Regions from separate parts of the Homo sapiens genome. Here all the other regions are reported to be linked to region 2. Evidence: microRNA targets listed by miRTarBase, many of them from high-throughput screens and not tested one by one. Region 2 holds a microRNA gene; each other region holds the end of a gene's coding sequence.
The links. The annotated mature microRNA hsa-miR-424-5p reads CAGCAGCAAUUCAUGUUUUGAA and lies in region 2 at 1,743-1,764, shown strand. An mRNA with a match to its seed (bases 2 to 7 or 8) in the 3' UTR can be bound and repressed. Matches are read on the target gene's strand: a 7mer-m8 pairs with bases 2 to 8, a 7mer-A1 pairs with bases 2 to 7 and ends in A, and an 8mer does both.

Region 1 (7,463 bases), not on the chromosome of region 2:
TGGAATCACAACTTTAGTTTCGACGCCCATGACCCGTGTGTATTTCACTCCTCCACTGTAACGGGACTTTTAGAACATTATAAAGATCCCAGTTCGTGCATGTTTTTTGAACCATTGCTTACTATATCACTAAATAGGACTTTCCCTTTTAGCCTGCAGTATATCTGTCGCGCGGTAATCTGCAGGTGCACTACGTATGATGGAATTGATGGGCTCCCTCTACCCTCAATGTTACAGGATTTTTTAAAAGAGTATCATTATAAACAAAAAGTTAGAGTTCGCTGGTTGGAACGAGAACCAGTCAAGGCAAAGTAAACTCTCCGGTCCCCAAAGGTTGTTAACTAGGTCCGCTTTCATGTGCATCAGACAGTACACCTATAGCAAGCACACGTAGCAGTGTTAGGCTTTTTCATACAGTATGTAAGCTTAGTGTTAGTATCTGTCAGATGCTACCTGCTGTTACTTATTCAGATAAACATGGTGCCTATTGGAACAATAGCGGATAGAGCTACAGGTGTTCAGTAAGACTACAAAAACATTTTGCCTATTTCGCTAACAGTTTGGTTTTTAATGGCTGTGGTATTTGAGTGAGGCAACTCTGGGGCATTTGTTATGAAGAATTCTATTTCTTACTGAAGAACAAATTATTAATATTGGATGAGTATTTCAACAGTGTGACTAATGTTTGAAATTATTTTTTCTAAGAGTTTTTCTATAACCTTCCAAAAGTCGTGATGTTTGTAGTTACTATAAATCAAGCTTTGGAAGTCCAAAAAGAATAAAAGACTGCCTTCCTTTTAGAAAAAAATGCAATTTTCTGGCCACAAGGGCATAGTGCAGTTCACTTACGTGTTGATGTAGTTTATAATCAGACGCCTTTTCTCTTCTGCAAAAGGTACTGTTAAGTAAACCAGATTTTCTAAATAGGCATTCTTAAAATTTCAGACTTACAAAGCTAGTAGTAGAATTTTATTGAAAGGCCTAGGTATTAATTTTTTAAATGAGTGCTTTAACTTAAAACAGGCGTTTGGAATAGCTGCTGCAATGTAGTCTTGTGTGTGATTTTTTTTTAAGTTGATGTGCAGTCTAATTGTTGTTTCATAAAAGTTGGATCTGTTCCTATGCCCAGGATGATTTTGTGAACCGTGAAGTACGTGAGACTAGAAGACGCCCAAACAAGTCAGATAATAGTAACTACAATGGTTGCTGATGTTGAGATTATTGTTGAACTATAATTAATAATTTGGATGGCAGAATTTATCTCTTTTTTGTAAACTCTCATAACTGAATTGCTTAAGTATAATTTATAGAATTTCAGTGCAGTTCATTCTTAATGGAAAATCTGAAACCTAAATTGCAGATTTAAAAGGTACTGTACAACCATTATATCTGTAAATAACTTAGCACCTTTTTGTCACTTAGAATAATATGTACTACTACTTGAGTGAGCGCTTTTGGAAGTTATATCAAGTTCTAGTGTTTGCTTCTTAGTAACTGAACTGAATTTACAGTTCTGTCCTAGACATTTTGCACTAAAGTAGCCGAATCCACTCTCATGTCTTTTCGTTAATGTGCTCTGTACCACTGGTGAGTGCTCCATAGTTTCCTTACCTGCTGCTACAGAATGTTATTTTACATCCCTATGGCTATTGCCAAGGCTACAAAAAAGGAAAGCTATATTTGTATGCAACACTAACCTTTTGACTGCTAATGTATGTTTCTGCTTGCTGTGCCTTGTTATGGCTGCTTTTTTTGTGCTAATAAAGTATGTTTGGTGTTCTCCTTGTATATCTGCTGTTTTATACATTTGCAACAATTTCTCTTGTAAATGGAATGGTTTGGGGTTTTTAAATAAGCATTAACTAACAACCTTTCTATAGTTAATGCAGAGTTAATGAACAGTCTAATATTGACTTATCAGAATAAGCTAACTCTAAATTTAATGCTCTACATCTTATCAGTCATAATTATATATACTGTGGAACAGTATCTGTAGTTACTGCAAATTACTGTACAGTTTAGGTTATAACAGAAAACTGACAGAGAAGTAATAAACCTATTGATTTCTCTGCTTATAAATGAAAGATTGAAACTATCCAATGACATATTATAGTAAATGAGTATCTGTAACCTCCCACTGCATCAGAAGCAGGTTAAATGAAGTCTTGTGAATTTGTAATAGATCAGTACCATTTATTGGTTTGGGGACCATCTTAATTAAAAATAAATGCCCAAAATGTAGAACTTTAACCAAAGACTTGTCCCTTTTAAAGCAAAATGGGGATTGAAGGGACTTATAATTTCTGTTGTTTCTAATTAAAGTCCCTGAAGATCATATACCAAAGTGTTTGAGAACTTCATCCAAACCTACTTTAAAGCATTATGTGCAATTAAGTTGTTATGACATAATTATATTGCCTAATTGTTGGGTCTTTTTTCTTGAGCTTATAATGTACCTGGAAAATAAACCTCTTGAGAAAAAGAAAAGTTCATACTGATTATTGGAAAAGGACTATATATGTGAGCAAGATTGTGTTTTAGAGAGGAAACTTGAAACTCCAAGAAAGCACTTGATGTTTTTATATGCTTGTAGCAAATTGATGTTCTAACTGTAGTTTTATAGAAAGTATTAATGCTTTTATGTATTTCAAAACTTTCATATGTTAAATGGAAATTGTTTTAAATGTGTTTGAGTTTATGTAAGCATGTATACACTGTGCTAAAAGTCACATGTTTCAGTTTGTGTATAATATTAATATGCAATTTTTGGTTTAAATTTTTGTCTTAAAATATTAGTGGCTTACATTTTAAAAAAGAAAAATCACCAGCATGAACTTGCACCTAAGTCTATATTCACTGTGTCCTTTTCTGAATCCCATTGTAGCCTGTCAACTAAATTTGAGTGTTAACGGTCTTTTTAAAGTGCATTTAAATACAAACCAGGAATTTCTTTAGAAGTTGAGATACATCTTTATAGTTGAAATAATTAACCCAAGAAAAGGTTGCTTTGATTTGTACCCATTCTCATTCATTTTCTTCATTCCCTTACACACACACACACACCTCTCCCTTCCGCATACATATAAGTGTGTATTATATATTTATGTATGCACATATATACATTTATGTTGTTAATATTACTTTAGATGGCATTTCCACCTGATACAAAAACATTTAGAGATCTTATTCTATAGATATTACCTAAAGAGTATTCTTGTACTATTCGAATTTTATTATCTGCACTAAAAGTTTAGCCTTGCTACTTTAGCCTTGTTTATAATACAGTCACCTTACAAAGAGAAAGAGTTCATCTGTATTTTGTTTTCTGGCTAAACACAGTACAAAATATTTGAAGAAAAACAGCTTGGATTAAATAGTTACTAAGAGTTATAATTAAATTTATGTTTCTTAGACAAAACTTGAGCCCAAATAATCATTCTCCACACACCAGGCTGTTTTTAGCTCTTATGTTTACGTAAGATTTATAATGGCTAGAACCGTAAGAACTGATACTTGAATTTTAAGCTTCATTTGACAAAATCGAAAGCTTAAGAATTTTTTTATTTCACATTTTGATCTGGTTGCTATTTATGTTTATTTCAAAGCTTGCTTTTCTCTCTGGCACTGAACACTAATTTGGTGAGTTTTATTGAGACTGGTCTTAGATCTCTTATTTTTATAGCAAATACTGCTTTTTGGTAGAGCCAAAGAGCCTGTGAGTGAATCAGGACCCTCCTTTTTTTTTGTTTTTTTTTTTGTTTTGTTTTGTTTTTGCGACAAGAGTCTCACTCTTGTCACCCAGGCTGGAGTGCAGTGGCCCGATCTTGGCTTACTGCAACCTCTGCCTCCCAGGTTCAAGTGATTCTCCTGCCTCAGCCTCCTGAGTAGCTGGGATTACAGGCGCCCACCACCACGCCCGGCTAATTTTTGTATTTTTAGTAGTGACGGGGTTTCACCATGTCAGCCAGGCTGGTCTCGAACTCCTGACCGCAGGTGATCCACCCACAGCCTCCCAAAGTGCTAGGATTACAGGCATGAGCCACCGCGCCTGGCCATAGGACCCTCCTAAGAAGGATGCAGAGCCAGGTCTGTCTTTGAGAGTGTTAACATAGAGCAAATAGCACCAGTTTGTTTGCTTACCTGTACCCCAGCACATACAGTTTTACTTTGATGAAATTAGATAGAAATGCATAGCAAGGGCTGACTCAAGGGTGAGAAAGTTTCGAAAGAGGGCAATGCTGCTTGGCCCGTGTGCATACAAGCTACATATTTTTGAGGCTCTGGTTTTGTTTTATAATTTTGCAACAGCTGATCCAGAACATAGGCTTTTAAAATAGTATATTCTAAAGAGGTTTGGGGTGGAATTTTTGTGGGAGGTAGCTGGTTATTTGTGGGGGACGGGAGGAGAGGTTGCTATTGCAAAGTATAGATGAGTTGGAGCAACTGTTTTGTTTTCATGCCCTGGACGCTTGATTGAACATTGAGACTCTCTTCAGCCATGCAGTCAACAAATATTTATTGAAGACCCGTGTGCCACTCACTATTTTCAGTAATGGGTGTACATTGGGGTATAAGACAAAGCTTTACTGCCTTCCAGAGTTTATTGAATTCTAGTAGATAAGACAGCAATGAAATGGTAATTTCCGAAGCTATGAGTAAAATGAGGCAGAACATGGTGGTGGAGGGACTGGGGCACAATTTTATAGGGTCGTAACCTTGAATGATATAAGAAAATTAGACCAAGACCAAAGAACAAACGTTCGAGATGAAGAGAACAATAAAACTAGTCCCCAAAGCACATATGGAATTACTCGCTGAGAAAGAAAGAATGCCAGTAAGGTAAGTCCATTGAGTGTGGAGAATAGTAGGTGATGAGGTTTTAGAGATTGGCAAGGGCCTGACCATTTAGGGCTATAAGCCTATAGTGAGGGATTTAAGATGTTGTTTTGAGTGTGATGGGAAGCCATTGGAGAGTTTTAAGCAAAGGAGATGTGTGGTGTGTTGTAAATTTCTCTGGTCAGTGGAGAAAAGACTAGTGGAACAAGGTAAGGAAGACTTTTACAGTCATCCAGGTGAGAGATGGTGGGACCTTGGACTAGGGTGATAGTCATGGGGAGAAGTCAGAATTGGGGTATGTTTTAGTGGTAAAGCTGATAAGACTTGGCGATGGATTAGATGTGAACAAGAAGAAAAAGATCAAAAGATGACTCCAGTTTTTGGTGTGAGAAGGGTGATTGAGTTTTGAGATTCCTATTAATAATTCTAACAGAGACATTGCATAGTAGGCAGTTGGATATATGAGTGTAGTGTTAAGGGGAGAAAATTAAAATGTGGAATCACTAGGCCAGGCATGGTGGCTCACACCTGTAACCCCAGCACTTTTGGGAGGCCAAGGCAGAAGAATCACTTGAGCCCCGGATTTTGAGACCAGCTGGGGCAATGTAGCAAGACCCCATCTCTACAAAATAAAAATTAGCTGGGTGGGTTGGCATGCGCCTGTAGTCTCAGCTACTTGAGAGGCTGAGGCAGGAGGATCACTTGAGACAGAGCCAGTTCCTTCCTCTAAAAAAATACTAAAAATGAAATGGGGAGTCACTGTATTGATAGTATTTGAAGCCACAGAACAGTATGCAACAGCTAGGGATTTTGCATGGGATTAAGAATTTCTTTGGAGGAAATAATTACGACAACATTTCTCTTAGTTTGTCAGTTCAAGATTCTGTATCATTAGTTGTTTTTAAAAGCCATCTGCTTTCGATAGAGGACTTGTCTTCCAAAAACTTTTAAGATACTGGAATCAAACCTTGCGCTGAATCTTCATACTACCCACATCAAATTTGGTTGTCATGCTTTCCATGTCAAATTTGCTTGTGTATCTTTTTTAGTTTGAGTTTTTATATGATAAATCAAAGTTCATTATGGAATATTCAAGAAGTACTAAAGATTATAAAAGAACCTACGAAAAAATGTTCATACTGTTGACTGAATATTTAGACTCTGACCATTCATTCCACAAATATTAATTTGAAGACCCATGTGCCAGTCACAGTTTTAGGTAATGGGTATATATTGAGGTACATTACTACCACCAACACTACCCCTGCCCTTTCCAACTCCCGTTTTGAAATTTTCCAGAGGTAACTGCTATTAATATTTGGTACATTCTCTTTCATATTTTTTCATGTATTTTTGACAGTTAAAAAAAATCACATGAAAGATAAAGTTGTACATCTTGAGTCAGTTACTGAAGGGTTTTTTTGAAATAGGATTTCAGTAGAAGATTAAGACCCTTAGTTGACTAAGTTTATAAACTGGTGGGGATGTAGGCAATTATGTAAATGTATAGTTATGAGAATATGTGGAAATAAAGTAATTAAGTAAAAACTGGTTTCACTGGTGATAAGGAAAAAACAGAAAAGTGACCCAAGTGGAGTAGGGTTGATTGGGAAGGTATTGGGTTTCTTTTATCACGAGAATGAGAATTTCATTTAGCAGAAGATGATGGAGAGGCCAGGTGCAGAAGTAGAGTGGCAGGTAGCAACAGAAGAGGAGCAGGATTGAGGTGGAGGAATCAGGTGATTGTAGCATACACTGGACTGAACAGTGTGAAATTATCTAGGCTCTGCAGCAAGGAAGAATTAGAAATTATGGCAGCAGGTGTAAGATAGCGTATAACCAAGAGGGATTGGAGTTAGGAAGTCCTGTGAAATTTGCCTAGATCAGGTCGCTAGCACTGGAATCAAACAGGAGCACATGCAGAAGAAAAATCAGCATAATTTTCAGTAAGGAAAAACAAGCAGTTCGCATGCCTAGGAGACTTCTAGTTAAATATGTCATAGTTTCTCCAAATTTAAGCAAATCATAAGCCAACAGTAAAGTAAATCGTAAACTTACAGTAAAGTAAAACATGTATATTGGATATTATGGATATCCAATTATGGATAACATTTTAGAATACATTTTAATGCAAAAAATAAATATTTGATCAAATAAGGAAAACTTCATCACTACTAACTGCTTACATGGAGAAAATAGGATGACTTTTCTATGGATAACATTTTAATTATGGATAACTTTTTAAAAGGCACATTTTAATGCAAAAAATATAAGATTTGATCAAATAAGGAAAACTATCACTGCTAACTATGCTTACGTGAGAAAATAGGAACATAAAAAAAAAGCAACATCAAAAAAACTTTTACTTGACAAAAGTGCTGAGAAAAAGTGGCACAATCTTAAATCTTAAGAGAGAGTTACTGAATTTAATCCCCAAAACACTATTATAATTGTAGTTTTTCTCATTTCTCAATTTTACTAAGTATGAAAACTGCTTTGAATTTTTTTAAAATTTATTTTTATTTTTGTTTTTTTTTTTGGAGACAGAGTCTCCCTCTGTCACCCACACTGGAGCGCAGTGGCATGATCTCGGCTCACTGCAACCTTTGCCTCCCGGGTTCAAGCAA
Region 2 (6,708 bases):
AAACTAGGGGATCGAGGTGGCTTTTTAGGGGTGTAACTCGTTGTACTATCACTGGGAGAGATGAAAGGGGTTAGGGTGAAAGGTATAAATGAATTTGATTCCAAGAGCAATCTGGAAGGGACCTTCGCCTTTGACACCGATGCTGTTTCGAATGAACTTTTGTTTTTCTAAGTAGTCAACTAAGGAAATGTTAAATTAGGCATGACTTTAACTTCTGACATGATGGCTCGTATATTTGTGTGGAACAAAATGTTGGGAGAAAGTTGTGGAGTTTTACATGATAATTGTACATTTGCTAAACATGTTTTTTTTTTCTTTTTAAGGGCAGTCAACGACATTTTTCTCCATTAATCCCAAAGTCAGTGTAAAAGTTGTTTGTAAATATCATTGCCAAAACAAGATGGAATGTAGAGATACTTGATTGTCGCAATTTAGGGAATGGGGTTATTGTTACTAATGACTTTTTTTTTTTACCATGACATAGTGTATTTGTTACCACTGGATCTCAGTCTGGATGTTATAAATTCGATACTTAATCTTATTAAATACTCTGCACATTTTATTAACTAATAAATAGGACACTTAACATTCATTGTACTGGTTTTGAAAAACCGACTTAATTTGTAAGTGTAACAAGATACTTACAGTTGGATAATTTAAATGTCTATTACTTGTGCTGAAATGTATTTAACTTTCAAAACCATTACAGTTAGTGCTGATTTTGTTGTTTTAACTTTTAGGTTTGTGATTGAGGATTTCAGAGTGGGTTTTTTTTTTAATGCTTAATTGAATATTGTATTCAAACAAAAAGAGGGCATGCATGTGACTTGTTGCTAATATGTGTCCATTTTAAAAAGGAAAAAGTGGTATCTAATGAGTTAATCATTAAGGAGTATGCGCAGTGCCGGCCATTTCAGGACATGAAAGTTTCTGTGGAGCTGCTTGAAACAGGAAGGAGCGACTTGACATCAAGTATTTAAACTTTTTGATTTATGTTTTGATAGATGACATTGATAGGTATAAATTATAAATAAGTTTGAGTAACCAGTTTAATATGTAAACTGGTATTTCATCTACAGAAAGTTCTCTGTCATTGTTTGGAGCTCTTTAAAATAACTCAGCTGGGGTGTTTAAGAATAAAAACACTAGCAGTGAGTTAGGACATCTAATGCTTTTAAAGATAGATGTATATGTCGCAACGATAGTGTAAGAATCAGCTGAAGCTACCGGTGAGGTTTTGGTTATTTTCTTTCAGTCATCTGAGTCCATTTCCAATAAAGGTTGTTTTTTTGTTTCGTTTTTTGTTTTTTTTTAATGGGGACAATGAATGAGACTTGTAATATGCAGCAGGAAGAAGTTTCACCAAGACTTTGAAACTGGCAAGAATGATCCAGATGTCCAATTGCCTCTACTTAACCTTATTCGTCTACCTTCAGAAGTAATTAGATTCTCTTCCACACTAATTCGTATCCCCCATCGCTCTGCTTTTCACCCACTACGTTGTTCCAAGATTCATCCTCAGGGGAAAAAATTGAGAGCCACACTTTCGGCTCCACCTGCAGCTCCTGGAAATCAAATGGTGAAGTTATAAGAAGTACCTTAACTTGGAGTGAAGTGGCCTAGTCATAAGTTTTGCCCTATTCCTTGCCAGGGGGTGGGGCGGGGCTTCCTTCAGTCATCCAGTCTTTATTCACCCGCAGGTACCCCCAGATCGATCCCCCTTCATTGACTCCGAGGGGATACAGCAGCAATTCATGTTTTGAAGTGTTCTAAATGGTTCAAAACGTGAGGCGCTGCTATACCCCCTCGTGGGGAAGGTAGAAGGTGGGGTCTGCCGGACGCGTGTTCCTGCCACCAGGTGCCCGCTCCCCGCGAGGCCGGCTCAGGAGCAGGTAGGTGGGCGGGGGCTCGCGTCTCTGTTTCCGGCGGGTCCTCGCCCTTGTCCACGCAGCAGGGCTGTAGTCCGGGGAGGGCAGTATTCCTGGCTAGGCTGGGGCGCATAGGCGGTGCGAGTCGAGGAGAGACGCGGTGCCCGCGCTCAGCCGTGCCCTAGCAGCGGGAACAGTTCTGCAGTGAGCGATCGGTGCTCTGGGGTATTGTTTCCGCTGCCAGGGTAAGTCTGGGACTGCCGTTCGGGCCTACCCAGCAGGTAAGTCTTAGGCCATCGCCTGCGGTGTCGGCCCCGGGAGCAGCGAGACCCAAGATTGCATCAAACGTTTGCCCCGTCTCTGCATATGTGACTGGACGTGAATGATGCTTCATTTTGGCACCCCCTTTCCCTGCTCAGGTAGAATGTAAACAATTGAAAAAAATCCCTTCCCAATCAGAATACCACCCACAGGACAACGAAGAAAACCTATCTTCAGTCCCCACCCACGAAATGCTGGGGGGTGGGGAGGACTGGAAAAGGAGTAAGGGGAGAGGAAGGGTGAGCAGCTGCAAGAAGTCTTTACACCTCTCTGCGGTTCCTGGTAAACGCGCTCATGTCCTGGGTATGGAAGGGACTTAAGAATTCAGGAAAGATCAAAATAACGGGCCTCTTCCCCACTCCCTCGCCCTCCCTTCCCCGCTGCTGGGGGGTTAGGGAGGCTCCGTGGAGCTCCAGCACTCTAGAAGGATCGGGTGAGGCGCGAGGCCTTGCGGGCGGGTGAACCCAAGGTGGGGTGGAAGGCTCCAACCCGCCCAATCTGAGCCCGAGGCCTGCTGAGAAGCATGGGGGCCTTGGGATAGTTCCAGAATGAGGATGTGCGTTTCTAGCTGCTTTGCGCCCTCCTCCCCCAAAAATCTGCTACCACAATTCCAACCCGGCGGCACGCCCCCAAGACTCCTTTGTCGCCCCAGGGGCGGGACCTGAGCTGTCGATTTCAGGAGCCCTTCGTGACTTCAAAAGTCCTGGGCACTGTTGCTCATGAGTGCTGCACAACTGTCGCCCTCTAAAGCCACCTCCATCCCTCACTGGGCTGGCCTCCTGAGCCTTCGGTGAGGAAACGGGGTTCCGAGTTGCCCGCCTGAGAGCTTAACAGTCTGACTAGAAAAGGGCTAATTCGCTTTCTGTGCAAATCTCTTGAGCTAATTATTTAATCTGAAACATGGACAGGTAAAGGACCATTGGCGGGCGTGGGGAGGGAGGTGTGGAATCTTTCCCACACTTTTTGTCACCTTAAAGAAAAAAAAAAGACACCCAAACTCCTCTGGTCTGAATGGGCTGCCTGGAACTGGGCTTCCCGGGGCCAGGAGTGGGCCCCTAGAAGTTTCCCAGTTTGGGGTGGGGCCGGGGTTCCGAAGTCTAGAGCTGGGAGTCGGGTTCAGCGGCCCGAGACGCTGGCTCTCCCAGACTCCCTTGCGCCGGGGCAGTGCGCGGGGGCGGCTCGGGTCCCTCCCGGGCCGGCGGGGACCCTCAGGCTCCCGGGGCGCCGCCCACCAGCCCGACCCGGCGGCCTAGAAATCCCCATTCTGCTCCCGCCTCGCCCCGGCCGGCCAGCGCAGGGCCCCTCAGGCCCGCAATCTCCAGGCTCAAACGGCGAACAGGTCCCCGCATCCGCCTGCCTTTGCACTTGGGGGTGGGAGAGCCACCTTGTGACGCCCCTTCTGCCTCTCACCAGCTTCCCCCTTTCTCCCCGTCCTGTACGGTTCCCCCTGGAGCCAGAAGGAAGCCCGGTGCCAGCCAGCCTTCCTGAAAGACCAAGCCCGCGCCATCCGGCTTCCTCCAGTGGACGCCTGCAGGACCCAGGTGAGACACGGAACCGGTTGGGGACGCGAGCCAGGGATCCTGACCGGTTGGGGGCGGCGAGCAAGGGATCCTGACTTGGGGGCGTTGCCTCCCGGAATCCAAGCGGCCTTTTGCCCGGGTCTCCCGAGATGCATCGAAATTGAGCTCGTCCACACAGCCCCCTGACTGCGTGATGCCCTTTTCTGACTTAAAACATTCCTTGTACCTTTATTTACACGATCCAAGTTGCAGTGTGCCTAGATTTTCCTCCAAGGACAAAAATGTGAATAAAGCAATATTTTAGCCAAACATTTCTGTGTCAATTAAGAAGATTGCAATTCGTTCCAGACTATAAATTCTCTTTAACAACTCCCTAAGGTATTCTTTTAAATTGTTTTTCAGCGTTGCTAAATGTGCATCATAATGTGTGGGAGACTTGTATAAAGTGAATCAATTTATACTCAGCTGATTAATTGACCCGATGTTACCACCTCCAAGGAGGCACCTTTCCACTATTTTCTCATTTTTTCCCCAACACATGTTATTTGTTAGTGAGGAAGCTGCGTGCACGTGGCATTGTATAAAGTTTATTAGACAGACGTGGCCCTTAAACTAGGAAGAGCTTAGTCTAACTCTAAATCTAAAATTCGACATTTCGGTAAGTTGTGAGACAAGATACCCAGGTTGTTTGATAAACCAGAATTGAACATAATTTTTTAAAAATTTAAATCACAGGAATGTTTTTCTTGAAGGCATCCAGCATCTCCAGTTAGCAGTACTGATTTTTTTTCCCCCCAACAAAGGAACACTACATCAACACTGTTGGCGGGGACCTGGACACAGAAGACTCCTGTTTCAAGAAAATACAATCATCTCTCAAAGGCTGTAATTTATATGCATTTTAAAACTCTAGGCATTGAAAACCACCCAAGTGTCCCAAATAGAAGGGTAATATATAATCAATCACTCAGTGTAATATTATACATCCTTTAAAAATGTTATTGGGAAATGTTTTATGATCTGTAAGTCCAAGGAATCCTCTCCCACCATTTCTTTCCCCCCGCTGTTCCCCCATACCCACACTTCTTTGTTCCAATTGGCATGTAAATTTGGTTTTCCCGCCAAATGAGTCAGTCATGATGGGAACCTCAACTGATTTGAACAGATGTGTGTCAATGTTACTTGGAAAACTAGATGTCAATAACCAGGGTCACAGAAAAAGGCAGTGGTCACAACTCTGTAAAAATGTATGCATGCACACAGACAAGAACTAAAGTGGAACCCCACACAGGAAAACAGTGGGCTGTACTCCAGTGCTGGGACATTGAATGACTGTATGCTGCTTTTGATTTCCGTTAATATGGGCAACTGTCCAATTAAAAAAAAAACTCCTAAGGACTCTGCAGTGCAAATTGTTTTGCTGATTGTTTTAAAACACCATACCTATCAACTCATCAAGGCAAATGGGGCAGCGGGGGACTGGGTTCGTTCCCTGAATCCTGGACTGCTATAGAGCTCAGGGCAACATTTGCAGAAAACCTGAGCCTATGAGATGGGAGTTATAGGCAGCTTTCCTGAGGCTGTGTAAGATGAAAATAAAACTAGGTTCAAAAAATATGTTTGGGGAAGATCAATGAGTTTATCGATAGAAGTTAAAAGACTTGAGTCTGGCTATATGCAAGTTGGCATATGTTTTTAGAGATCTTTTTTCCCATTGGCCTGCAGTATGACTTAATCTCATAACCCTAGAATTTTATATATGCATTTGTATTTAGAGTTATTACATGACTCTTAAGCAAAAAAGAGTATATATACATCAAGTGTAGCAAACGTGTATCTCCCTGCCCCCCTACATCCCACTCAGGCCCACCCATTAGTTACTCCTCAGTGAATAAACAAGGATCGGCTAGCTCTTTCATAATATTTCACCTATCTGCCACCTTTTCCCTCCTCCCCAGCTCCACAGCTGATCTCTTTGGCAAGTTCAGCCAGGCTTAAAACCCCTGTGGGGATAGTAAATTGAGCCAAGAGGGAGGAGCCCCGAAAGACTTCCACTTCCTGTGGTTGCTTGGGCCTTTGAGCACTCCCCCTTCCACTACTGAGCTCTATAATCTGAGCAGTTGGTGGGTGTTTGGAAACATGGCCTTGGCTCCACTGCTGGAGTCAGGGAGCTCAGAACACTGCAGCAACCTGCCAGTGAGAGTCTGGGTTGCTTTGAAGCCTGAGTCTCCCAAGGCAGCTCCCTCACCTGTTCCCCCATGTCCACCCCCACCTGCCATCCAGACAAGACTATTACCCTAAGACCAGACCTTCTAAAGGCGTGGCCACAGAATCATCAGTATCCCAACATCTTGCCTTTGTATCGTGTGTTTACATACTTTTCCAAATACTTTGTTTTTTCTTTTTTTTCTTTTTTTAATTTGTGACAACCTTGAAAGACAAACAGAGTTAAGGCAGTCCAAAAAATAATTACAGACAAGAAAACTGGGGCCTCTGGAGGTTAAGGATTTGTCTGAGGCTACTCTCTGGGGGCTCTTCCTCCAGGCCTCATACTGTGTTCCTTATGTCATTACCTGTTCATCAGAACCGACTATGCAGTAGTGACCAGAGCAGGAAATGGAGGTGAATGTGTTTGGTTACAAAAATTCCCGGTGAAACTGGCTAGTCTTATGATGAGCTTTGGCCTATACATTGGACACTTCCTGGGTGAGGCCCAAGATTGGCCCCAGGATTACTAAATAGTGACTATAAGTTACCCAGCCGTGTACAAGTCAATCTGCACAAACCAAAAAAGCATGATTTAAATTCATTTTAAACCTCTGTCCCATGTTTGTTATTTTCTGTAGATTCAATCAAATTATCTTAAGGAAACAAATGAAGTGTCAAGCTATAGGGGTTGACTTAATCTAGTCACTCACTCAATGGAACCTTTTTCAGCCATTGCAAATAATAATGATAGAGAATATACAGAAACCTGGAAAATGCTTATGATATCAACT
Region 3 (8,112 bases), not on the chromosome of region 2:
CTTCCATGCTGGTGACCTCGGGCAAGTTCCTTGACTTCTCTGGGCCTCACTTTCTTCACACAAAACAGCGGTGGAGGGAGACCTACCCCCTCCTTCACGGGGATACCGGGGACATCATTAAAGAGGAGAATTTTTTTTTGTTTTTTTTTGGTTTTTTTGGTTTTTGTTTTGAGACGGAGTCTTATGCTGCCCAGGCTGGAGTGCAATGGCACGATCTTGGCTGACTACAACCTCCGCCCCCTGGATTCAGACGATTCTGCTGCCTCAGCCTCCCGAGTAGCTGGGATTACAGGCACGTGCCACCACGCCTGGCTAATTTTTGTATTTTTAGTAGAGACAGGGTTTCACCATGTTGGCCAGGCTGGTCTCGAACCCCTGACCTCAGGTGATCCACCCACCTTGGTCTCCCAAAGTACTGGGATTACAGGCATGAGCCACCGAGCCCAGCCTCTTGTTTACTTTTTAAAAACATTCTCAAGGCCATGTGCAGTGGCTCATGCCTATAATCCCAGCACTTTGGGAGGCCAAAGCAAACGAATAAGCTGAGGTCAGGAGTTTGAGACCAGCCTGGCCAACATGGAGAAACCCCGTTTCTACCAAAAATACAAAAATTAGCTGGGTGTGATGGCGCATGCGTGTAATCCTAGCTACTCGGGAGGCTGAGGCAAGAAAATCACTTGAACCCGGGAGGCAGAGGTTGCAGTGAGCCAAGATCGTGCCACTGCACTCCAGCCTGGTGACAAGAGCGTGACGCTGTCTCAAAAAATCAACAAAAAACCTCTTTATAAAGTGAACAAGGCAGCTGATGTGGTGGCTCATGTCTGTAATCCTAGCACTTTGGGAGGAAGGAGTTCAAGGCCAGCCTGGTCTACATGGCGAAACCCCACCTCTACAAAAAAAAAAAAAAAACTAGTCAGATGTGGTGGAACATACCTGTGGTCCCAGCTACTCGGGAGGCTGAGGTGGGAGGATCACTTGAGCCCAGGAGATGGAGGCTGCAGTGAGCTATGATGGCACCACTGCACTCCAGCCTGGGCAACGGAGCAAGACCCTGTCTCAAAATAAAATAATAAATTGGCTGGCCACAGTGGCTCACGCCTGTAATCCCAGCACTTTGGGAGGCCAAGGTGGGCGGATCACTTGAGGCCAGGAATTCAAGACCAGCCCGGCCAACATGGCGAAACCCGGTCTCTACTAAGAATACAAAAATTAGCTGGGTGTGGTGGGGCGGGCCTGTAATCCCAGCTACTTGGGAGGCTAAGGCACAAGGATCACTTGAACCCAGGAAGCGGAGGTTGTAGAGAGCCAAGATCACACCACTGCATTCCAGCCTGGGCAACAGAGCAAGACTCTGTCTCATAAATAAATAATAAATAGAGAAGAAAATAATTTTTAAAATATAAAATAAAGGCCAGGCAGAGTGGCTCACGCCTGTAATCCCAGCACTTTGGGAGGCCGAGGCGGGCGGATCACGAGGTCAAGAGAGTGAGACCATCCTGGCCAACATGGTGAAACCCTGTCTCTACTAAAAATATAAAAATTAGCTGAGTGTGGTGGCATGCGCCTGTAATCCCAGCTACTCGGGAGGCTGAGGCAGGAGAATCACTTGAACCTGGGAGGCAGAGGTTGCAATGAGCCGAGATCATGCCACTGCACTCCAGCCTGGCAACAGAGCGAGACTCTGTCTCAATAAATAAATAAATAATATAATATAATAAAGTAAGATTGAGTTCCAGACTGGGAGTGCTGGCTCACACCTGTAATTCCAGCACTTTGGGAGGCCGAGGAAGGTGGATCACTTGAGGTCAGGCGTTTGAGACCAGCCTGGCCAACATGGTGAAACCCCATCTCTACTAAAAATACAAAAATTATCCAGGTGTGGCGGTGGACGCCTGTAATCCCAGCTACTCGGGAGGCTGAGGTAGGAGAATTGCTTGAACCCAGGAGGCAGAGGTTGTAGTGAGCCAATATCACGCCATTGCACTCCAGCCTGGGCAACAAGAGCGAAACTCCATCTCAAAAAATAAAATAATAAATAAAATATAAAATACAGTTCCAGATAAATGGATCTTTTGTGTGTGGTGTGTAAGTATATCCCCAATGTTGCGTGGGCTAGACTTATACTAAAAGAATTCTGTGTTAACCAGAACTCCAGTTTCACTGGGCATCCTGTACTGTGTCTGGAAGCCTCCCTCAGAGACAAAGTCACTTGCCATGGGTCACCCAGCAGGTTGTTAGAGCCTGGGATGGGGAAACTGAGGTCACAGGGTTGCAGGAGGTGGGGGGTGAGCGTGGGAAGAGGTAAACCATGTCTGCAGCAGAGTCTGACCCCTCGACTTCTCTCCCTTTTTCTCTCTCCCTCTTTCTGTCGCCACTGGGCCACTCAGTCCTGGTATCTGGGATAGCAAAGGTCTTCTTCCCTCGCCCCTTCTCCATCGTCCCAGGAATCCCAGGGGGCAGCACAGCCGGCCCCCGGCCCACGTTTTCGGTGGAAAATTAGAGTGAACAAGAACACCCCTGCCGACTCCCAGCCCGGCCAAAAAGACAAAACACATAGACGCACACACTCAGGAGGAAAAGAAAAAACAAAGGCAGAAGAAGAAGAAGAAGAAATAAAAACCCACCCAAGCAAGAAGACAAAAGGTAAAGACGCAACGTTTCCAACTCTCGGGACGCCAAGGCCGCAGGACTGGAGGGCCAGGCCCCGCCACCCCCACGGGAGACCCGGGACAGGGCGTCTTCCTAAGTTATTCATCTCCTCTCCGCCTGCTGCTCGGGAAGGACAGACGCCGGCCGCCCGCCCGCGCCCCGGAGGCCCTGGCTCTGTCCGGAGACCAGGTGAGCACAGCCTGGAGCCTGTGCCCAGGGCCGACAGGCGCGACACCCAGCAAGGCCACCTCTCCCCGGGCCCCCGCGCCTCTGCCGGACACGGACCGGCCCCTCAGCCCCCACCGAGGACGCAGCCACTGGGGGGAAAGGGAGACACAGCGGACCCCGGCCGGGCAGCGGAGACCGCAGAGGCGGGCAGGGTGGGGCAGGCGAGTGGTGTCGCGGGGGTGCGTGGCGCTTGCGAGCCCTGGCCAGGGGAGGAAGTGAGGCCCAGGCACCTGCTGCCCCTCGAGGGGGCCCTGCCTGCCGCGGGGCCTCCCCACAAGCCCCTCCCAAAGCGCCGGCCGACTCGCTGTCTCGCTGGGGACTCTTTCAGCCCTCGCGCCCGCCCGTTTGGGAGGAGAAGTCTCTATGCAATTGGCCCCGGCCCCTCCACCCCCCACCCCCGGCATAGGAGGCCCCCCCACCTCGCCCGGCTCACACCCCCAAAGGGAGGGACCCACATTGCACACACTGTAAGAAATGCACTTTCCGAGGAAGGGGATGGGGGAGCCCGGACACCCAGAGCTCCCCGAGTTGGGGGTGCCCGTCTGGAGCGCCCCCGTCAGCCCCTGGCGGTGGGAGGTGAGAGCGAGTGGTTTAAGTGCCTGATTACCACCACCCGCCCCCCCCTTTGTCCAGCTGGGACACGGAATGGCCGCGGGCCTCCTCCCCCTCCCCTCCAGCCTCTCCACCAGCCCCTCCAGTCAACCCTCATCGCCGTGCCCCCCCAGAGCTAGAGAGATGGGGCCCCTGCGTGGCCCGAGGGGCAGAGCTGGGCGTCACTTCGCAAGCGTCCTGCCCTGCCGGGGCGCGGGGGTGGGCTCTGGGGAAGCCGGTGCGCCCCCCACGCCTCCGCTGCCAGTGCCTTACATTCTGGAGCGACCCCCCTCCCTGGTGCCTCCCAGCGAAGGGGGACCGCCGTTTGCACTTTCATCGCCTACCCCGACGCGGGGCCCAGCTGCGGGACGTGCATCACGGCTGGGCCCCCAGAGGAGAGAGGAGGCCGACGCCAGCGGTCCCCGCTCGGAACGGGGAGGGTTTTCGGGGGGTTCGGCGTCGCACCTTGGGGCCCCCCGCAGCCGTGTAGGGGGCCTCCCATCTGCTAAGCGTTTTTCCGTTGAGCCGCTCCAAAAACACTAAGCTGGGGACGCCAGGTGCCCCCCCACCCCGGCTCCCTGGCCCTATCCACACCTCCACCCCCACCCCAGGATCGCCATCTTTAGGGGAGGCCTGGGAGGGGGTGTTAGGTGTTTTAGGGCCACCGAGCTCAAACACAAGGACCCCTCCCCGGCCCACCCAGCCCAGCCCCAACTGACCTCCATGCCTAGGGAAAAACTCCCCCCACCACTGCCCCCTCCCCCGACCCAGGCCAAAGCCAGGGCAGGTCTCCGGGTCTCACCTGCTCCTAGCCTCACCCCCCTGCCCCCGAAAACCAGACTCTCCTCCCAAACTAGCCTCAGGAGCTTGGCGAACCCGCTCGCTCCTAAAGAGAAAGACCCAGGACCCTCCCCCATCACCCCCAAGAGAGGTTCGCCATCCTCTGGCCTCGAGCCCTTGGTCCCTCCGTCCGTCTGTCCTCGGGGCCCGCTCCCCCGGTGGCCCTTGGGGATCAAAGCGTGGGCCGCTCTCCGGGAGGGCGGGCGGGGGAGGGGGTGGTCGGGTTGTGCCATTGGGGTGTCCGGAAGCTTCTCAGCCAGGGTGGGGGTCGTGGAGTGGGGGAGGGAGGCCAGCCGGGCTCCAGAGGGGTCAGGGCGCGACGAGAACCAACTCTTTACCTAACTTTGCATGGTGCTTAGTCAAGGACTCCTGCGACCTGGCTCCCGAGGTCAGCTGGCGGCGCTGACACACATGCATGGCAGACTATCCCTGGCTCTATCTCCCTGTTCCTCGCCCCCTCCACCCCCCACTTCCTCTTTAAAAAAAAAAAAAAAAAAAAAAAGATACAAGAAAAACCTTTAAAAAAATTCCATGTTTCCTAATTTGCACGAAATTTTCTACCACAAGATGTGCCTTGCCTTCCGAGAATAAGTATTACCTTTAAACAATATCAGCGCACACACATAGCTGCATGTTCTGCTCGTGTAGTTTAAAAAAAAAAAGACAAAACAGTGACATGAAATAAAAAATAAAAATTGAAAAGGGATGTATTTCTATTTGTAAAAAAAATAAAATAAAAAATAAGAAAGTGAGAATCTAAAAAAAAAAAAAAAAAAAAAAAAGGAAGAAAAACCACGCTAAAAATCAAGCCACTGAAAACAATTGCCCCCAGGTCTACCCAGCCCCTGGCTGTCCTTGGTCCTGTCTCCCCTCCTGCTGTATTCAGGGGTGCCCCCTGGTGCTCAGCCTCTACCACCCCCAACCCTGCTCTTGGGTACCCAGAGGGGTCATTTCTGAATCCCTTGCCCAGAGGACAGACCTCCGGGGCCCATCTTGGCCCTGGGAAAGGGCTCTCCTCTCTGATTGGTCCCTAGGCCACGGGCCGGCCCCCAGACACCATTCACCGACCCACTGCAGGCTGTCCTCCAACCATGGGGTGGCCACTCCACCCGCAGCCAGACTCCCCGCTCCCCACTTTTCATGCAGGCTGGCATACCCCTGGCTCAGGGTCAAATGCTGTTCCACACCCACCTCAGAGGCACCCCCTCTCCCCTGCCCCGTGCATCCCCACCCTTCTTGCCAAAGGACCTCTTTTCCCCTATCCAGAGACCACCCCAGGTGGCATTCTCTCCCACCTTCTCCTTTGTCCCCCATCCCCTGTCTCTGTCTTCCAGCTGTGAATATGAAGGGTATCCTGTATGAAACAAAAACAAAACCTGATATATGCAATATCTGTCTGTCTGTCTGTACCCATGGGCCTGGCTCAGCCATTGGAGGCCCAGCCGAGGGTCCGGCAGGGCACAGGGACAGCCAGGTGGCACCGAGTCACAGGCTGTGGTCCGGTGGCTGAGCATGCTGTTGTCTTGTCCTTGATTTTATTTTCTTTTGTTCTTTTTTTTTTTCTTTTCTTTTTGTTTTTAACTCCAGCTTCCTTTGCTTTTTACTTGACCAAAGCTAAGACAATAGCCAGATGGTTAGTGGGGCAGCCAGGCAGGGAGGACCCAGGGCTGGGATTCTCCAACCTTAGGCCATTCCTGCAGCCCTCACCACCTCCAGCCCCTCCAAGCATCTCGTGTAGGGACCCACGCAGATGGTCCCATTCATTCACTATTGCCCCCAACCCCGGGATTTTGGGTGGTCTCCACAGCCACCATCATACACTCATCCCGTGTTTTCTTCCAAAAAGTCACCTCAGCAGCCTCCCCAGGCGATACAGAGGGAGAGCCCAGACCACCACAGCTGGCCACGACATTGCCCTTAAGTAATATGCATTGGCCAGAGAGCCCGGGCTGGCTGTGCACAGCATTCATGTAGCTGATTTCTAGCTTTTTTTTTTTTTCTGCCCCACTCCTGAGCAAATCTGTCTTGCCAAGGAACTAGGAGCAACCGGAGGCAAAGGGAGTGGGTGGCCCCATCACTATTGGGACCATCGCGTCCCTGCACAGCCCACACCCGGGGGCCCAGAGTCCTGGGCTGGACGCCACCCTTCTCACCCCGAGCTTGCCTCCTTGGCTCACTTGGCACCTTGGCTGAGTACAGCAGGCAAAAGCCCATACCAGGCAGCATGTTGTGGATGGTTTAGTTCTCCCCGCCTCCCTGTTTCTTGGAAAAGCTACAGGGTCCCTGTAGGGCAAAATTCCCAGGCGCCTTGCTGCAGACAGAGTAAGACAAAAACACCAGGAAGCAGGATTCCGTGCCCATCTCTGCAGTTTGGGTTCACAAAAGGGGGTGCCGTCATCCCTGGGTGGAGGAGGGAGTGTTGGTTTTTTGTTTTTGTTTTTTTAACATGTATGAAACTGACATCTTCTCAAATCTTGTTCCACCCCCCTCTGGAAGCCCCCATCACCCACCCCTGCTATGGACACCACACCTATGCCAGGCCCCCCCCCCCACCCCAGTCTCATTCTGGGGTCTGCCCATGCTGTGGGAAAGAATAGGGAGGCCTCCCAAATATATGCAAATTGTCCCCATTCCGTGGGGGCACCTGACAATGACCCGGGTGGAGATGGGGCATGGAGGAGTAGGAAGACCCAGCCCTATTTGACTGGGGAGAGGAGGATCTGGAGTCCTTCATGCCCAGGTCTGGAACCCAGGTTCTGACCCCAGGGCCCCACCCTGGGCTGGACAATCAGATCCCAAAGGAATGCCAAAGGGGACTCGGTTGGGAGAGCCGCTTAGGGGCCAGACCTGGGTCCCCCTGCAGGTCCCCAGGCAGCAGACAATTCCACCTTCCCTGCCCCAGGACCTTGAGAGACAGCAGCATTCCAGGCACAGACAGACTTGGCTGCACCCCACTGTCCCTTGCAAGACAGGTTCTGGAGCCAGGAGCAACTGTCCAGCCCTCCAGAAGAGACAGCAAGCAGCCCCCCTACCCACTCTGGCCTCCCCAATGGTACTTTGACCTCCAGTGTAGGGCTATACTATACATATATATATATATATATATATATATATATAATTTTGGAATTTGTTTCTCATAATACAGAATATATAGTGGCTACCTTGTATCTTGGTCTGGATTCTCTCTCTGAGACCCCGGATTTTACTTTCTCTTTGGAGGGCGCTGGGACATACATCTCTCAATCCAGCTTCCTCCGCATCCTCCCATCTTGCCCCATTTCTGCCACGTCAGACACTTCCTGAGAGTCTCACCTTCAAAATGACACCGCTGCCCATCCATTGCTCAATGGTACAGAGTGTGGGGTCAGTCCACCACCCTTGACCTCCCGGCAGGGCAAGGTGAGGAGGCGGACCCAAAGCAGTACCAGCAGGACTTGTTGCCAGTGATACCAAAACAGACTTTTCCCAAGCAGTGCCTCACATGTCTGCTGGTGTGGCTTTGGGATTCTCCTGCCCCACCCCCCCGTCCATGGCAGCCCCCTCCCCAAGGCTTTGCTCACACCTGAGACAGGAAGGAGGAAGGGGATCCAATAGGAATATGGGCCCCGGAGGGGAAGTCATGCACCCCCAAGCCACCACCCCCCAGCCTTCCACGCACATCTCCTGGCTGGAAGAGAGCCCTCCAAAAAGGGGACACAGGCTGCCCCGGCCCCTCAACTGCATCCACACCCCATCCTCTCATCTTGGGTCCCAGCCAGGCCCCCCCAAAACCAAAGCCCCCTCAAGTCCTGGGGTCCCAGCCTG
Region 4 (7,325 bases), not on the chromosome of region 2:
ATGAGATATGGGGAGAGAGTGTGTGTACTCGGAACCACTGCCTGATCTCAACGCCATCTTCAGGATTGGAGGCAGTAGGAAAGGTCTTTCTCAGCACCTAGGTCAAAAGGCTGCAAAGCTCCATGGTAAACCCCTACTTTGCCCTATATTCCTTTGAGATTTCACTTCAGGTCAAGGAAAAAATTATGTTGAATGCTGCCTGGGCTTCATCCCAGTTTTGTTCTATTTTTGCATGGAGGCATGACTTGAATCTAGCTCCCCTTTTTAGCTCTGAATCTGTTCTGTCCTGTTAAATCAGATAACCACTACCTCCCAGGTTATAGCAAAGTTGAGGTATGATTCTGTAGAGAAAACAGCAAACCCAGGCCCTCACTGCTGATACATGGCAGTTTTCAACTCCTAGGCATCATATTGTCCCAAAATACCTCTCCAGCAAAACCCAGCCCCCATTGTGAGCTGAGGGGAGAGTTATTGAGAGCACACAGTGCCATGATTCATTTGTGGCTGGGGTGATAACTGATGGCCCTTTCCTCTGTGGACCCCTCAGGTGTTTGCATTTTTAAAGTAGAGGAGTGGCTGTACCTTCTGACAAAACCCAGGGAAACATGACTGCCCCAACAGGTCTGAGAGGGAGGTGAGATATTTTCCAGGCAAGGGCAAGATGTTGGAGTAGAAAGACTATCGTGCAGGGGTTCCAGAGGCCCAGGAGGTCTTAGCCCCAGCTCTGCCATTAACTTACTGAGGGACTCTGGCAAGTTGCTTCCTCTGCAGAGCACACCACCTTCAATTTCTAATACTGGCACCAAGAACACATCTTCCTATAAACTGTCCACCAGCTTTGCTAAAATTAAGGCTTCTGGGGGGCACAGGGGAAATGGCCACCTTCCCTTTTGGCCCAAGCACCTGTGTGGGGCCTGGATGCCACTCTTTTTTTTTTTTTTGAGACAGGGTCTCACTCTGTCACCCAGGCTGGAGTGCAGTGGCATGATCTTGGCTCACTGCAGCCTCGAACTCCTGGGCTTAAGCAATCTTCCCACCTCAGCCTCCCAGGTAGCTGGGACTACAGGTGCATGCCACCACACCCAGCTAATTTTTAAATTTTTTGTAGAGATGGAGTCTTATTATGTTGCCCATGCTGGTCTCAAACTCCTGGGCTCAAGTGATCCTCTCCCACATCAGGCCTTCCAAAGTGCTAGGGTCACAGGGGTGAGCCACTGCACCTGGCCCTAGCTGCCAATCTTGGTATCGCCTGATAGGAGATTTTACTTCTGTTCTTCTCTTCACCCCATATTGATCCAGATATATTTCCAGAACCATCCTGAATCTCTGTCTCTGTTTTTCCCCATATAAGGACCGAAGAAGCAGAGGGCATTTTGGATCCCCAGGAGTCGGAAATGTTAAACTTTAATGAGAAGTGCACTCGGAGCCCACTACTGACCCAACTCTGGGCAACGGCGGTTCTTGGGTCTCTCTCAGGTTAGGAGCAGTAGAGCCCAGGACCATTAGGACAACTGGGCTTCTGTCTGTCTGTCTGGGGTTCACTCCTGGTTCACAATGGGGACCCGTGCTTCTGAGATGATAGCTTAAACAAGTCATGCTGGATGCAGGCTGGTCAGTAGGGTCAAGGTTCCAGACAGGCCTGGGGCAGCTGGGCCAAGTCCTTCCCATTTCCGGACTAACATGTTCTGTGGTTGGGTCAAAGATAAATCTCATTCCTATAAGTCATGTCTTCCTTATATCCTGACCTACTAGGGCAGCCCAGTATTATTTATTGGAAACCTGGGGTTTCTCTTTAAGAAGATAAAATTGATGGCCAACTGAAGAACATCTGGACCAAGAATCAAACTGCCTGATTTGCCTCACTTATTCACTTTACACACACTGACTCAGGCCAACTGTGGGCCCCACCCTGTGCCACATGCTGGGGCCACAGAGGTAAACTGACATGGTCTTCTGCCTCCAGGAATTCCCATTTAGCACAGAGGTTCTCCAGAGCAGGCCTCCTCCAAGTTAGATGGAAGCTTCCATTCTCCCAATGGTAGTCTTTCACAATTCGTGGAACAGTTAGGTTAATAGACTGATTTTTTTTTTTTTTCAGTTTTAATCCTCCCTCCTCGTATTATCCTTACAATTTTGGTAGAAGCTGTAGCTTCTCTACTCTAGATTCTGGTATCAAATGATGCCTGATTTACCAGCAGTTTAGATATTTGCTAGAAATTGCTTATCTCATGCTTCCTAGCTCCCAGAGGCTGTGTTTCTAGGACACGTCCAATCTGGAGGCCACAGATATGACCAAGTAGAAAGAGTATAATCAGTGCTACGTATAGGAACAAAATGTTTTGTCTTCATTTTGCCCCTCCCACCAAGTCAGTGTGTAAACTTGGGCAACTCCCTTTTTCTCTCTGGGCCTTATTTCTATCAGAGTTTACAGTTGAGGGTCTTGACTGATAGTAACTATTGTTATGAAGGCTACAGTTTATAGAGCACTTACATGCTGGGCACTTTACATGTATGATTCTGTTTAATTCTCGTGATCACCCAGTGAGAAGTCCTATTTTGACCCCCGTTTTGCAGACAAGGCTCAGAGAGAGTAAATGGCTTATATGAGGTCACCATGCTAGTGAGTGGTGAGGAACCTTTTGCTACCTGGCAGGACCAGGTTAGGGCAGGGGTGGGCCCTCGGCAACTCTGAGAATTCTTTCTGGCAGGCACAGAGGACATACGGATCGATGAGAGGACAGTCAGCCCCTTCCTGCAATTGTCAGATGATCGAAAGACCCTGACCTTCAGCACCAAGAAGTCAAAGGCCTGTGCAGATGGCCCGGAGCGCTTCGACCACTGGCCCAATGCCCTGGCTGCCACCTCCTTCCAGAATGGGCTCCATGCCTGGATGGTGAATGTCCAGAACAGTTGTGCCTATAAGGTGGGCGTGGCTTCAGGCCACCTGCCCCGCAAGGGTTCTGGCAGTGACTGCCGTCTGGGCCACAATGCCTTCTCCTGGGTCTTCTCTCGCTATGATCAGGAGTTTCGTTTCTCACACAATGGGCAGCACGAGCCCCTGGGGCTGCTGCGGGGCCCAGCCCAGCTGGGTGTAGTGCTGGACTTGCAGGTTCAGGAGCTGCTCTTCTATGAGCCAGCCTCCGGCACAGTGCTCTGTGCCCATCATGTGTCCTTCCCGGGGCCCCTCTTCCCAGTCTTTGCTGTGGCCGATCAGACCATTTCTATCGTCCGCTGACCTCTGGCCACAGGAAGCCAGGTCCACCGCCCACCACCCTTTCAGGCCATGTTTCTACTCAGTGTGCTTTTCCCAAATGATGTGTGTGGTGTTTCTAAGAGAAACAGGGCCCATAACCAGTGGGCAGCTTTAGGAGGGATGGGGATCTGTTTCAGATCTAGGCATAACCTGTAAATCACAGGTGTCCAAACTTTTGGCTTCCCTGGGCCACATTTGAAGAAGAATTTTCTTGGGCCACATAAAATACACTAACGATAGCTGATGAGCTAAAAAAAAAAAAAAAGTCTGTGTATAATTTTTGTGATATCTGCCACCACAGATAAGCAAAAAAGTCCTTGCATTCAAAGGGTTGGAGATTGCTGCTTTGAGTGCTGGGTACCTGTGGGGAACCTACTACTCCCTGGGCCTTAGTCTCCCAAATCCACCATGCATCTGCCCCTCTGAGGGTGTCTTCACTTTGTCTCTGGCATCTAGCATGGTGCCTGGTGCATAGTGAGCATGCAATAAATATTTGGCAGGTGAGTGGATGGATAGATGGATAGGTGAATGTAGGTGGACAGGTGACTGGGTGGATGTTGTGGTCTCTGGAGAAGCACTGCCATTCAGCCTCCTGCTCCAGCTGTTCACATGCAGAAATGCTCTCTTCACAGGCAGAGAAGCCTGTGGCTAAAGTTTCCACATCCCATTAACTCAGTGCTTTTGTCTTTTTCATGACATGGCACATAGAGAAAATATTTTTTTCTAGCACACAAGAGCAACCTGAAAGGCTGCTCCTGGCCAGAGGACTCTGTCCCGGGGGACCGTGTCCTCCCCCATGTCCTGCCTAGGCCCTCAGAGGACCAGGGGATCATGTCTCCAGGTAACCCGACTGTAGCCCCTGCTGGCTGAGCTCCAGCCTGTGCCCACTGATAATAGCAGGGACGGCCTTTTCTCTTAGAGCAGCTGATAAGTTTCCCTACCTGATGGCCCCCTCTGACATAAACTGCACACCTGGGGTGATGGCTTAAAGCCAGAAAGAGCTGAGGGAGTTAAGAGGGCCAACCTTAGGGCACGTGGGCATTATTAAAGGTCTTAAAAGCATTGAAGATTTATTCCATGTTCTTTGTTGATAATTGGGTGTATACTGTACGCTGGCCTGTCTTCATACCCTTATTGCATTCTCGGAAATAAGTGGGTCGCAGCTCAGTGTAGCGGAAAGAGCCTGGAGACATTACCAAGACCCAAGGCAAGTCCCTTTATGTTTGTCTCCATGAGGAGTTCACCCTAGAACAGTGGTCTTCAAACTTTTGTCCAGGAACTCTCTTCAAAAGTAATCTTACCTACAACTTTAGGCTCCTGCGTCCAAAGAAGATGAAAGGCAGAGCCCTCCCCACTTTCTTTGGGAGCTGCAGAGCAGTTTGAAAACCACTGTTTATTAATTTTTTTTTTGAGACAGAGTCTCAAAGGGATGCTGAGGCAGGTGGATCACCTGAGGTCAGGAGTTTGAGACCAGCCTGGCCAATGTGGTGAAACCCCATCTCTACTAAAAATACAAAAAATTAGCTGGGCATAATGGTGCACACCTGTGATCTCAGCCACTCGGGATACTGAGGCAGGAGAATTGCTTGAACCTGGGAGGCGGAGGTTGCAGTGAGCCGAGATCGCAACACTGCACTCTAGCCTGGGCAACAGAGCGAGACTCCATCTCAAAAAAAAAAAAAACAACGAAATTACTGTTGCCTGGCCTTGGTGCCAGTCCCAAGGAAAACAGACCAAAAGGGGTTTGGTCAAGTCCCAAAGAGATCTTCCCTGCCTTTGCCTGGGCACAGCCCCTGCTCAAAAATCTGGGTCAAAGCCAAGGCTTTTCTTGGCACCTGAAGGCCCCCATGCCATTTTCTCCCAATCCACCAACCCAGCTCCTCACAGCAGCCTTCATTCCACAGTTCATCGGCCTGCTGCAGCAATGTCCTCCTCATCCCCCTGCTCATCTAAAGCCACCCCCAATGCCACTACTGAATTCAGCATCCATTCTAGAGCCCTCCCTAGCTGCTGGCACCAGAACACACTGCCAGCCTGTGTTTTTAATGTGTGGTATCCTCTGGCACTGGGCAAGGAACACAGATGTCCAGCAAATACCAAGTAGAACGGTGTGGGAAGGTGGGGAGGCAGGAGAACTTTTTGTTGTTTTGTTTTTAGAGACAGGGTTTCACTCTGTTGCCCAGGCTGAAGTGCAGTGGCACGTAGCTTACTGTAACAGAACTTGTGGGCTCAAGCGATCCTCCTGCCTCAGTCTTCCGAGTGGCTGGGATTAAATGTGTGTGCCAGCACACCAGGCTAGTTTTTACATTTTTTGAAGAGATGGGGTTTCACCATGTTGCCCAGGCTAGTCTCGAACTCTGGGCTCAAGTGATCCTCCTGCCTCAGCCTCCTAAAGTGAAAAAAGGAATTGAAAAACCCAACCTACTTCAACCTCCAGTTCTTCCCCCCTCCCTCCAAACCTATTCCCTACACTGCAGTCCTTGTTCCCCATACTTTCCTACCTCCACACTGGTCTCTGCGACTGGGGTGCCCTTTGAGATTGATATTCTTTAGGACACCTCCCCTATTCTCCCAGAATCTCCACTGTACCACGTTTCACATGACAAGCATCCTCATCTACTTACAACCTAGTGGTCAAGCCAATGGGCTTTGGATTCAGATGTGCCTAAATGGAATCCTGGTGTCTTTGCATGCTAGCTGTGACCTCGGGCAGGCTGCTTAACCTCTGAATTTCAGTTTCCTCATTTGTAAAGTTGTGGAGGGGGTCAAACCACCTAGGCCCAACGAGGTAGCTTTGAGGGTTATATGTGCATGGAGGTAACTCAGCACCTTACCTAACACGGGGCAGGCATATGTCAACAGGATTTCTTCTCATGACTGTCATGGGGTTCCTTGTTTAAATTCTCCCCTTCATACTATGTGGTGCTAATGGACAGTGTCCCTACAGAATGGCTTAGCATCCTGCTTTTCAAACTAAGCACTGACCCCAGGCTTCCAGAGGGTATTTTCAGAAGCTGAAAGAGAGACCTTAGCACCTCTGCTTCAACTCCAGCAGTTTTTCAGGGTCTGTTTTTAGTTTTGCATAATGGGGTTTCAGATCGCCCATAACTAAAGGACTCTGCTGCTAAAACCAAGTTTGAAAGTGCCTGGTTTTGAAGCTAGTGGGGCCCTCTGTGAATCCTTTGGATGTGAAGTCGACTCCTAGTGGAAAAGGGACACAGGTGTGAATGAGAATGAGGGAGGGCAGAGGCTAGGAGCTGGTTAGTGGGGGAAGGGTGAGAGCTCAGCACTCACTGCTTTATTATCACAGTAGGTGACAAAGGCCGCAGGGAGAGGGGGAAAGGTCCAGAGCTGTGGAGAAAGAAGGGGCTCCCTGTCTCCAGGGTTTGTTTAAGGTTTTCTCCATGGCCTAGGGCCCAGCCACTTCCCTCACTGGCCTCAAAGCCCTGGAGTTGAGCCCTCTAGGCAGTCAAGGGCAGGCAGGAGATGGGCCAGAGAGGGGAGGATGTGTTCTTTAGGTACAGAATCCCTGACCACGGGGTCCAGTGCCTGTGGGCCAACCACCAGGAAGCTGTGCATGCCCACAGCCCGAGGCCCCTGGTAATCGCAGAGGTAATTATCCCCAACATGGGCTGCCACTACTGGTTCCATATGAGCAAGCCGCAAGGCCTCCTGGAAAATGCGGGGGTCCGGCTTGGGCCAGCCAGCAGCCTCGGAGGTCAGCACAAAGTCGAAGTGTTCACGCAGGCCAAGGCCCCCCAGGATGCCCTCTAGCCGTCGGTCAAAGTTGGAGATCACTGCCAGTCTCAGACCCCGTGTGCGGCACTCCCTCAGGGTGTCCTCAGCCCCATCCAACACCTGCCAGGTGCAGGGGTGGCTGAAGTCTTTATAAAGCTGTTCAGCGATGGGGGCTACAGCCTGAGCATCCTGGACACCCGCCAGGTGGAAGGTCTGCAGGACCACATCCAGCCACCACTGGCGGGAGGTTAGGCCGTGGCTCAGGCCGTAGTTGGGGAAGCTGTGGCTCTGAGCCCTGTATGCCTGCCTGAAGCCTTGTTCCAGGGCTGAGGGC

Region 1: the mRNA of SOCS5 is a reported target of hsa-miR-424-5p. Seed matches in the 3' UTR shown: 8mer at 1,613-1,620.
Region 3: miRTarBase lists NFIC as a target of hsa-miR-424-5p. Seed matches in the 3' UTR shown: 7mer-m8 at 2,768-2,774.
Region 4: miRTarBase lists BSPRY as a target of hsa-miR-424-5p. Seed matches in the 3' UTR shown: 7mer-m8 at 3,593-3,599.

What each region holds. Positions count from the first base shown.
Region 1 is chr2:46,759,827-46,767,289 of GRCh38, forward strand. SOCS5 (suppressor of cytokine signaling 5) reads left to right here. Exons shown (of 2, transcript NM_144949.3): 2 at 1-3,303. The coding sequence ends at 315. Among named protein-coding and RNA genes, the nearest start is that of LINC01118, 53 kb to the right of the region's middle.
Region 2 is chrX:134,541,736-134,548,443 of GRCh38, reverse strand. It overlaps MIR424 (microRNA 424), which reads left to right and starts at 1,733; the gene lies at 1,733-1,830. MIR503HG (MIR503 host gene) reads left to right here and starts at 1,814. Exons shown (of 3, transcript NR_024607.1): 1 at 1,814-1,892; 2 at 3,647-3,730; 3 at 4,445-5,067. MIR503 (microRNA 503) reads left to right here and starts at 2,046; the gene lies at 2,046-2,116.
Region 3 is chr19:3,460,365-3,468,476 of GRCh38, forward strand. NFIC (nuclear factor I C) reads left to right here. Exons shown (of 11, transcript NM_001245002.2): 11 at 2,388-8,112. The coding sequence ends at 2,405. Among named protein-coding and RNA genes, the nearest start is that of SMIM24, 16 kb to the right of the region's middle. RefSeq lists enhancers at 2,175-2,710, 2,711-3,246, 4,828-5,328, 5,329-5,829 and silencers at 3,698-3,898, 7,407-7,701.
Region 4 is chr9:113,366,908-113,374,232 of GRCh38, forward strand. BSPRY (B-box and SPRY domain containing) reads left to right here. Exons shown (of 6, transcript NM_017688.3): 5 at 1,352-1,476; 6 at 2,709-4,315. The coding sequence ends at 3,235. It overlaps HDHD3 (haloacid dehalogenase like hydrolase domain containing 3), which reads right to left. Exons shown (of 3, transcript NM_001304509.2): 3 at 6,515-7,325. The coding sequence ends at 6,692. Among named protein-coding and RNA genes, the nearest start is that of HDHD3, 6.4 kb to the right of the region's middle. RefSeq lists enhancers at 2,511-3,011, 3,012-3,512.